3 linked regions of the Homo sapiens genome follow. The protein of the gene in region 1 purifies or fractionates together with the protein of each later gene. This does not show direct contact. Each region holds a gene or a part of one and is shown in the gene's direction. Other genes may lie near its edges. The genes, in order: GFPT1, CARS1 and PRMT3.

Region 1 (3,654 bases):
CCCAAAATTGTGAGTAATAATTTCTTAATGGAGCTTTTCTGGCCAGATCTTCAGGGCTATAGGAGAGTGTGTTTGTTTTTGGTGAAGTCCTTCTTTTTCAAAGGTTTTTACTTTTAAATTGTGAAGATAAGCTATTTAGCACAATTATTTAAGTAAGCTGTTTTTTCCTTTCTTTTCTTTCTTTTCTTGTTTTAACTTCTGGGTGAGGTTAAGATTTTCTAATAGTTATTGTTGTTGCCAGAGAAGCATAGAATTCTGCTTGTGTCTTAGGGTTAGAGAAAGATTTGTTATATTTTGAGGTAATTTGGAAGGACTTTCATACATGGTGACTAGAAACCTGATCTTTTTAAGAATAAAATAGGGTCACTATTTACATTATATATAATATATGGCTATTATAGCTATATTAATCTACTTTAATTGTTTCTAAGATTATTTTGTGTAAGTCAGCTAGCGTGTGTATAGTGTCATTTCTTATGTTTTGTATATTAACGTTTTACAAACACAATTTGTGTGGGTTTGTAGCATTTCTTATAGTTTAAAGTATGATTCAGCATTCTAAGTTAAAACTAATATGTGAAGTCAGTCATTAGTCTGCATAATCTCTGTCTCCCTCTGTGTGTGTCTTTCTATAAAGCACATGTGTACACACACACACACAAATATACTGAAAGCTAGGGTAAGTTCTAAACTGAATATCAAAAACCAAAATCAAGAACAAAGAAGTGATATTTTCCAAACAAACATGGATTCTCTGCCGGGTGCAGTGGCTCAGCCTGTAATACCAGCCTCCACTTTGGGAGTCTGAGGTGGGAGTATTGCTTGAGCTCAAGAGTTGGAGAACAGCCTGGGCAACATGGTGAGACCTGGTCTTTACAAAAATTTTTTTGGCCGGACGCAGTGGCTCACACCTGTAATCCCAGCACTTTGGGAGGCCGAGGCAGGTTGATCATGAGGTCAAGAGATCGAGACCATCCTGGCCAACATGGTGAAACCCCGTCTTTACTAAAAATACAAAAATTAGCTGGGAGTGGTGGCGTGCGCCTGTAGTCCCAACTACTTGGGAGGCTGAGGCAGGAGAATCGCTTGAACCCAGGAGGCGGAGGTTGCAGTGAGGCGAGATCACGCCACTACACTCCAGCCTGGCGACAGAGCAAGACTCTCTCAAAAAAAAAAAAAAAAAATTTTTTTTTTAAATGGGCTGGGCATGGTGGCTTGTGCCTGTAGTCTCAGCAACTTGGGAGGCTTAAGTAGTAGGATCGCTTGAGCCTGGGAGGTTGAGGCTGCAGTGAGCTGTGATTGTGCCACTGTGCTTCAGCTTGAGTGACAGAGTGAGACCCTCCTGACTCAAAACAAAAAACATGGTTTCTCCTCTCTCTCCTGTCTTCTTACTCTCTATCCCATTTGATGTAGTGATTTTTAAATGCTTTTGTAAGTTAATTCTTAACACAAAAGAGACATTGTAATGAGGCACACCACTAAAGTGAGCATGCCCAATTAAAACCAGTGTAATATAGGATAAGAAAATCTGATTTTTCAAAAAAGATACTCTACATAAAGAATCCTTCATATAAAAAGTTCTTTCTTGTAGTACATTTAAAGTTTTAATTCACTCATGTATAACTGAGAGTTCCTTTGAGCCCTTTTTAGGCAGGGAGGCATGTCTGTCATCTAGCGTGTGGCCCAGTAAGTGATTATTACATTGGAATCAGTTTTTCAGTCTTTTAAAATAAATTCTGTGCCATAAGAATAAAAGATAAAGAGAAAAATTAATGTTAACTATTTTTAGCTTATTATAACTATGTCAACAAGTGTTTATTAATACCTATTATGGGAAAGTCACTGTGGTTGGCATTGAAAATTACATCATCTTTAAAGCAGTATTTGTCCCCAGATGGACTCATCACTAGCAAAGACTAGGTTCATTGGAAGGCATAGGGTGAGAGAATGGGAAGATGAAGTGGAGGCGGGTTGTTAAAGTGCTGTCAGTGAGTGATTTTGTCTACTTGAATAATGGTCCATGTTTGGGGGCATATTGTGTTTCATAAGAAGTGAAAGGTATTTGCAAAGTAAGCTACAAATGACCCATAAATCTGTTAACAACAGTCCTTAATATGCAAAGATGAAAAACAAGCATTACTGCTACCCAAAGGGAACTGGTGCTTGGTGATGTGCAGATGGGGCTGTTGGTTAAGAGAGCTATTACAGGTTTTCTCTCTTAGGTTTCATAGGAGGTAGTTACTGAGATGAGATTGTTTTATCTTTTTGAATACAGATCTCTTGTCTTGAGTTAGTTCTGAGGATGGGAGTAATAAAGGAGTTTTTTGTTTTTTTGTTTGTTTGTTTGTTTTGGCTCCTTAGTAATACTCCTCTGACATTTATTTCTATTATTCTTCAAAGAAAGGAAACCAACTGAAATGTTTGCTTTAACAAACATTTTAATAAGTTCTCTGGGTTTTTTTTTCCCCTTTTAAAAAAATTAGCATATACCATAGCAATAAAAGAACTAATGTTAACTATTGTATGCTACAACTTAAGTGATTTTTCTAAAGAAGCACAATGTCATTGAAAGTATTATTGAAAAGGATCATAGTCACATTGAATTTGTGAAGGCCAAAGAAATTGAAGGGAGTGATATTTTCATTTTATGATATTCACATATTTAGTAAATTTTGTGTACAAGAATACCAGGCAGAGTGTTTTACCCATGGAAACAGGTTTCAGATTACTTTATTTTTACTGTTAGAGTCTCAAGTTTAGAAATGCTAACACTTAAATCAGTTTTTTTCTCACTATACTTGAAGATTGTTAATATTTTGATATCTTCCTAGCTTGATGAATTTAAACATATCTTCAGATCTGTGACAGTGACAGCCAATAGGACTGATAATATTAGCTTCAAACCAATAATATCCAGGGTTAAAATAAAAATCATAGTGAAAGTACGATTGTAAAATTATGCTATATTAACTTTTAAGTCTGTAATAACTTGACATCAAAATGTTATGTAATTACCATAAATAATGGCTAGCGAGAACATCTTTGGAAATTCTCAAATTACCTTTCTTACTACACTGTTTGCAGAATGAATGTAGAAATGATCCTGTTAGCTTTCTGAATGTTCTGTGGTTGAATGTGTTTTTGCTTAAATAAAGCTTTTGGTATTTGTTTAAATTACACTTCTTGAGAAGTGGAAATTTTAGGATCATCTTTGCTTTGTTTCAGTTTTGTGATTTTTGAAATGAATGTTTAGTTTACTGAGCCAGTTGGTCATTTCTTCCTCATGTCGTTAAGTCCAGTGAGTAAGCCTGAACTGTGAATAAATTACCAAAAACTTGCTTAGAATTTCATTTTGAAGCAATTTGCTAATATTTGAAGTGTATACACATTTGTAGTTATGTTAGAAATTGTATTGTACTAAGAATGTAATCAATGTCTACTTTAGTTGTAAACATTTCTGATGTCAAAACTTTATTCATTACTGTTGATTTTAAGAATAAGAAATCACTGCCTAAATATTACCAAAAGCCACTGTCTCTACCCGAACTTCCCAGTTTGGGAAAGAATCGTTAGATAAAACAAAGGCTCTGCCCTTTCTGATACCAAACTCCACAGATACTTTCTCACATCTTTTAAAACATTTTGCAATAACAT
Region 2 (3,654 bases), on another chromosome or scaffold:
CTCTTTTCTGACATGAGTGCAGTTGGGGCGTGTCTCATGCCTAGAGTGTGTGTGGTCAGGACCTGGTTCACATAGGTGCCATGTTTTGCTGGGATTGGTGGTTTTTACTCCCATTCCATGGTGTGTCAAGTGGGGATGGCATCTTCAGTCAATGGCGTCAGGGAGATGGGGCTTTTGAGACCTCTGGGACCAGTGCCCTGCCTATCTCTCCTAACCTCTGGCTGTGTCCGTCATGAATCTTTTCCTGAATGCACCAAGGGGTTGTGCTGTAGGTGACACACTGTGTGCTCCTGCCCAGCCTCTGCCCATAACCCTGCCCTGCACGGCCCAGGTAGGCTGCACATGCTCACCAGGCCCACCTCGGCCCTCCCACCTCTTTTTGCCTCTGCACCCACAGTCCCCTTGGCTTTGCTCCTCTGAGTTCATGTGAGACCTGCCCATTTGTAGAGTCTTGTATTTGTCCCTGCCGAGCCAGTTGTGTAAGCATCACAGTCTCCCTAGGAGACGGTGGCTCTTCACAGGTCAAGGTCAGCACCTTTGAATTCAGGGCACTGATGGGCTCACACCAGCTGCACGAGATGTTCTCATGTGAAGTGTGTGGCCCGCTGCTGGATTTTTGTTTCTTTCTCTTCAGGTGTTGCTGGAAGAAGCCAAGGATTTGCTCTCTGACTGGCTGGATTCTACACTTGGCTGTGATGTCACTGACAATTCCATCTTCTCCAAGCTGCCCAAGTTCTGGGAGGGGGACTTCCACAGAGACATGGAAGCTCTGAATGTAAGTGTCACGATTGTCTTGTGCTGGCTCTCTTGCGCTAAGGGCCCTGATTTCTAAATTCCTGTTTTGGCAAGGCCAGCTCAATTAAGCGGCCAAGTCAACATTGAACTTGAGTTGAGGGGCATAATGGGCTTTTCGTTTTATGAATTGGGAACGTTTTTATGGAGCGCGTGGTTTTCAGAAGGGAAAATCCCAGGACATTCTCATGTCTTGCACAGGTTCTCCCTCCAGATGTCTTAACCCGGGTTAGTGAGTATGTGCCAGAAATTGTGAACTTTGTCCAGAAGATTGTGGACAACGGTTACGGGTAAGCACAAGGGCCTTCCCTAGGGAGGGAAGGGCTGCAGAACATCGCACAGGGAGGAGCTCCCCAGCTCTGAGCCTGAGTTTGGGAAGCAGAGGAGCAGGTGTTCTGGGGCTGCGTAGCTAGAAGTCCCAGCAGACTTCCTCCTACAACTCTGGGCCCACCCAGGGGCTGAGGAGCATGGGTCTGCACTGTCCTGGGGGCCATGGTGAGAACCTAACCCAGAATCTGCTGGGAAGCTCGGCAGCCAAGACCATCAGTCATGGGGCCCCAGAGCTGCATAATGGTGAGTGCGAATACTGCTGGGCCTTCACAGACATCAGTGCCATTGCGTAGACATTTTGAGAGTGCTAGTCCTGGTGTCATATCCCGAAGGAGGATGCATTTCATCAGCATCTATCGCTTGGCTATGATTTTAGTGACTTTTTGTTGGCAAATCCATCATACACTTCCCTGGCCCGTATTGTCTCAATCTCCAAAGTAAGCATTTTCAGAAATGGCCAACAAATGGAAATGCAGACAGGAACCCGGTTATCTGTCTGTAGTGTGTAGGGACCAGCCCCACAGGGTCGGTGGGTTTTTCTCCCCATGTGTGGAGATGAGAGATTGTAGAAATAAAGACACAAGACAAAGAGATAAAAGAGAAGACAGCTGGGCCCGGGGGACCACTACCACCAAGACGCGGAGACCGGTAGTGGCCCCGAATGCCAGGCTGCACTGATATTTATTGGATACAAGACAAAGGGGTAGGTTAAGGAGAGTGAGCCATCTTCAATGATAGGTAAGGCCACGTGGGTCACGTGTCCACTGGACAGGGGGCCCTTCCCTGCCTGGCAGCCAAGGCAGAGAGAGAGAGGAGACAGAGAGAGGCAGCTTACGCCATTATTTCTGCATATCAGAGACTTTTAGTACTTTCACTAATTTGCTACTGCTATCTAGAAGGTAGAGCCAGGTGTACAGGATGGAACATGAAGGAGGACTAGGAGCGTGACCGCTGAAGCACAGCATCACAGGGAGACGGTTAGGCCTCCGGATAACTGCGGGCGAGCCTGACTCATGTCAGGCCCTCCACAAGAGGTGGAGGAGCAGAGTCTTCTCCAGACTCCCGCGGGGCAAGGGAGACTCCCTTTCCCGGTCTGCTAAGTAGCGGGTGTTTTTCCTTGACACTTACGCTACCGCTAGACCACAGTCCGCTTGGCAACGGGCATCCTCCCAGACGCTGGCGTTACCACTAGACCAAGGAACCCTTCTGGTGGCCGTGTCCGGGCATAACAGGAGGTTCACACTCTTGTCTTCTGGTCACTCCTCACTATGTCCCCTCAGCTGCTATCTCTGTATGGCCTGGTTTTTCCTAGATTATGATTATAGAGCGAGGATTATTATAATATTGGAATAAAGAGTAATTGCTACAAACTAATGATTAATGATATTCATATATAATCATATCTAAGATCTATATCTGGTATAACTATTCTTATTTTATATTTTATTATACTGGAACAGCTCGTGCCCTCGGTCTCTTGCCTCGGCACCTGGGTGGCTTGCCGCCCACAGTAGTGCTCAGCACTGTACCGTGCGCCTGCTCCCAGAGACCCACTGTGTCCAGCCTCAGATTGCTTCCCTCCCACAGGAACCACACAGGCTGGATGAAAGAGAAACAAGAGGTTGTGACAGTGCCAGGAACGGGGCAGACTCTTAAGCAGTAGCGCTGCTTCTCTCCCCACTTCACACAAACTACTGTGGGGCAGCATAAGAGCCTGTGCCAAGCCGAGAGGCATGGGCAAGCCGAAGCTCAGAGAGGACAGGTCATTCCAGACTGGAGTAATCTAGAGTGCTTCTTGGAGGCCAAGAGCCTCAGCTAAGCTAATGGGTAGAGTGTGGACATTCAGGGAAAGGTGAGGCCACACAAGAATGAGGACGGCAGCAGCCCTGAGCAAGGCAGGGTGGGAGCTGCATGGGTCACAGGACGCCAGGCAGAGGGACGAGCTGCCCAGGGCAGGCAGGCTGCCTCCGCAGCGGGATGGGCCCTGGTGTCCCACTCAGTCCAAACAGCTGATACGGTTTTCAGTGGCCACCACAGAGAGTAGATAGGCCACAGATTTCGCACTTTTATAGCCCTGCTTTATTTTGTTACTGTCATCCTGCTGACACACTTTCGGGTCTGTTAGATGCACCCACCCAATTCCTTTTCTGTTTTCCAGCTATGTCTCCAATGGGTCTGTCTACTTTGATACAGCGAAGTTTGCTTCTAGCGAGAAGCACTCCTATGGGAAGCTGGTGCCTGAGGCCGTTGGAGATCAGAAAGCCCTTCAAGAAGGGGAAGGTGAGGAGGGCATGCCTGAGAGCATGTGGGCTCTCCCTCCTGGCCCAGCCTGGGTTGTGTTGACTTTGCAGGCCACGGGGGCTGCGCTGAGCCCACCCCTCAGACTCTTGGGAACAGTGCTTTTTCACCTGAAGGAATTTTAGGAGTTTTCTGCACTCAACATTGTGCAGCTCTAAGACCATGACATGTGTTTTTTTAATGGATATATAATAATTATGCAATTTATGGGGAACATGTGATGTCTTAATACAT
Region 3 (3,654 bases), on another chromosome or scaffold:
CAGTATAAGGCAAACTGTAATATACTATCGTAACTAACATAACAGAATGTATAATAAACACATTTGCTCATCAAATATTGTATTGTATTGTATCCTATGGGCCAGGTTACTGCTCTGGGCACTGAGAGTATAGTGGTGAACAAGACAGGCATACAGGAATAAATAAGAAAACAGTTGAATTGGTCTGTGAAGGGGTATCATAAGTATCTGGAAATCAACTGATAAAGTTATATTTAGAAATATTCTAATTAACCACGTGGTTTTTATGATAATCTGTGGCTGAGTACTACATTGTTTTATAATTCTATTTGGCAGAATTATTACTAGTATTTTGATTCTCTCTTGGTATCTAAATTGCAGTGAACCTCAGGGTTAAATATTGAGTTTGGTTTGGACCTAATCCATATTAACCCTACCAGATCAATAAAATGTCACATTTTTAACAAAAGTAGCAGAGTACACAAATTAGCTTTACCATGATTTTTCAAAAAATCAGTGTCCTGTTTTTTACACTTTCTAAGCTTAATGTAATGCCAGCTTTAAAAAGTGATTAAGTCCAGCTAGTTCCAATAGTGAAAGAAAATGGAATGGTATTTAAATTTAACCAAAAAACTCAAAATTATGTATTTATCTGAGTATGTTAATTTCTTTAAGAGATCTTTTGTAGGCTGGGTGCAGTGGCTCACACCTCTAATCCTAGCACTTTGGGAAGCCGAAGTGGGTGAGTCGCAAGGTCAGGAGTTCGAGACCAGCCTGACCAACATGGTGAAACCCCATCTCTACTAAAAATATAAAAATTAGCCGGGTGTGGTGGCGCACGCCTGTAGTCCCATCTACTCAGCCTTGCCTGACCAACACGGTGAAACCCCGTCTCTACTAAAAATATAAAAGCCAGGTGTGGTGGCGCACGCCTGTGGTCCCATCTACTCAGGAGGCTGAGGCAGGAGAATCGCTTGAACCCAGGAGGCGGAGGTTGCAATGAGCTGAGATCCCTCTGGGCAACAGAGCAAGACTCCATGTCAAAAAAAAAAAAATCTTTTTGTACTATCACAATAACCCTTAGAGCTCACTTTGGAGTTTCTCCTTTGAGTACTTGCTTAAACATAAGATTTGAGTACTACTGTTCATTTTTTCAGGAAAAAAAAAATAAGTAACATTTTAAAAATCTTTATTTCATCACAAAAATATTCATAGTACTTAAAAACAGATATACTGGACTAGAAGAAATTAAATGAACTGGCTTTGTATAAATAGGATGTTTTAATTATTTATTGCTATGTAATAGCCCATCTCAGAACTCTGGCTTGAAGCCCAAACCATTTTTATCTGTTTGTTTCCGATTCTGCAATCCTGACTGGACTTAACTGAGTAGTGCACTTGCTGGTCCTTCCTGGCATCTTTCATGCCGCTGCAGTTGTCTGAACACTTGACTACAGCTGGAGAAGTCAAGATAGCCTAATGCGTGGGTGGACATCTCAGTTGGCGAGTGAGGATCAGTGAGGGGCCAGCTGAGTCTCTCTCTCCATGTGTGTTCACCTTTCAGTGGTCTAGCATGATTATTTCTCTAATAAAATGTACTAATTATTTGATTAGCCTTATTACCTTTATTATGTTGTTTCTGTGAGGAAAAGCCAAATTACATTACTTCGTTTTTACTTACAACATCTTTTCCAGGAAAAATATTGAGTTTAAGAGGTATTTAGTCTCTGAAATGGTTTATCATTTGCCATGTCTTAAGAGACAGTAATGAGTTATTATATTATGTAATTCATTTAGTAAGCATTTATATTTCTTTTTTTAAAAAACAGGCAATTGCTGGCTACTTTGATATATATTTTGAGAAGAATTGCCACAACAGGGTAAGTATCATGAATTATCTCATAAGAATTAATTATTACAGAAGTACATTATATTTTATTTTGTGCCCCAAGGTGTTTAATCATAAGCATTTTGCTGCTGTAAGCAATTGGGGCTTGTGTTTGATGTCGTAGATTAATGTACCATGATATTAAAAATCTTGTACTTCATCAAATACCTTTGAACTTTACCAATTCAGGTCGTGTTCTCTACGGGCCCTCAGAGCACCAAAACACACTGGAAACAAACAGTATTTCTACTGGAAAAACCATTTTCAGTTAAAGCAGGTGAGAAAGAATAGTAGGGGGGAAGTATCTTATTCATTCTGAAGTAAATGATATTCATTCATTTTACAGCCACTTTTTATGTGCACACTATATTTGTTTTTTGAGACGGAGTCTCGCTGTCTCACCCAGGCTGGAGAACAGTGATCTCGGCTCACTGCAACCTCCATCCCCTGGGTTCAAGCAGTTCTCCTGCCTCAGCCTCCCAAGTACTTGGGATTACAGGCACACACCACCACACCCAGCTAATGTTTGTATTTTTAGTAGAGATGGGGTTTCACCATGTTGGTCCCCAACTCCTGACCTCAAGTGATCCACCTGCCTCGGCCCCCCCAAAGTGCTGGGATTGCAGGTGTGAGCCACTGCGCCTGGCCTGCACAATATATTTGAAGCAATATAACAGATGTTAAGAAAAGATATTCTTAGAGCTTACCATCTACATAAATTTTAGATGGCATATCATTTAATTAAAGACATAATTTAAGAAAAATTTTTAAGTCTAATTTCTGCCAACTAAAATAAATAAGACTACCTGGCTCTTAAAGTATCACAAAATAATTCAGAAAACTTTCGGCAATAATTAGTATTTAATAAGTTACAAATATAACTAAAAATATTTTCTTTCTCCAAGTGACTGAAGAGAAATATTACCAATAAAATAAAAGTTAAAGACAATTTCATTCAGTAGTTATTGTAGGCCAGGCACAGTGGCTTATGCCTGTAATAAGCCACTTTGGGAGGCTGAGGCAGGAGGATAACTTGAGGCCAGTTTTGGGTTTTGTTTTTTCTTTTTTGAGACGGAGTTCCACTCTTGTTGCCCAGACTGGAGTGCAGTGGCACCATCTCAGCTCACTGCAACCTCCACCTCCTGGGTTCAAGCAATTCTCCTGCCTCAGTCTCCCAAGTAGCTGGCACCACCACGCCCAGCTAATTTTTGTATTTTTAGTAGAGATGGGGTTTCACCACGTTGGCTAGGCTGGTCTCAAACTCCTGACCTCAGACGATCTGCCCATCTCGGCCTTCCAAAGTGCTGGGATTACAGACATGAGCCACCGCACCCAGCCGAGGCCAGTTTAAACCAGCCCAAGCAACATAGCAAGACCCTATCTCTACAAAACAATAAAAATTATCTGGGCATAGTGACAAAAGCCTGTAGTCTTAGCTGCTTGGAGGCTGAGGCAGGAGGCTTGCTTGAGTCTGCAGGGAGCTATGATGATACCACTGCACTCCAGCCTGGGTGACACAGCAAGACCATGTCTCAAAAAAAGAGAAAAAGTTATTGCATTCAAAATATATTTGTCTTAGCATTCTCTCCACTGTCTCTTCCCTGCCTATCCAAATCTTATGCAGTATTCAAGGGCTAATCAGATTCTATTTTTTATTTTAAAAACTCATTGATTGTTCACTTACATTAGCACCTATAGTTCTGACATACCTATATATTTCACTCTAAAAGTTAGAATTTGATTATGGAATTTAAAAATTTAAACTGCTTACTACATATAAGTCTTCT

Evidence for each region.
Region 2: the proteins of GFPT1 (region 1) and CARS1 fractionate together in Homo sapiens (co-fractionation; one large-scale study listed by BioGRID). This does not show direct contact.
Region 3: the proteins of GFPT1 (region 1) and PRMT3 fractionate together in Homo sapiens (co-fractionation; one large-scale study listed by BioGRID). This does not show direct contact.

What each region holds. Positions count from the first base shown.
Region 1 is NC_000002.12:69,321,209-69,324,862, reverse strand, and holds part of GFPT1 (glutamine--fructose-6-phosphate aminotransferase [isomerizing] 1), read left to right. Parts: 3' UTR 1-3,654.
Region 2 is NC_000011.10:3,026,424-3,030,077, reverse strand, and holds part of CARS1 (cysteine--tRNA ligase, cytoplasmic), read left to right. Parts: exon of another isoform or gene 1-634; coding exon 635-775; intron 776-993; coding exon 994-1,082; intron 1,083-3,280; coding exon 3,281-3,402; intron 3,403-3,654. UniProt on the Homo sapiens protein: Catalyzes the ATP-dependent ligation of cysteine to tRNA(Cys).
Region 3 is NC_000011.10:20,492,111-20,495,764, forward strand, and holds part of PRMT3 (protein arginine N-methyltransferase 3), read left to right. Parts: intron 1-1,808; coding exon 1,809-1,859; intron 1,860-2,056; coding exon 2,057-2,144; intron 2,145-3,654. UniProt on the Homo sapiens protein: Protein-arginine N-methyltransferase that catalyzes both the monomethylation and asymmetric dimethylation of the guanidino nitrogens of arginine residues in target proteins, and therefore falls into the group of type I methyltransferases.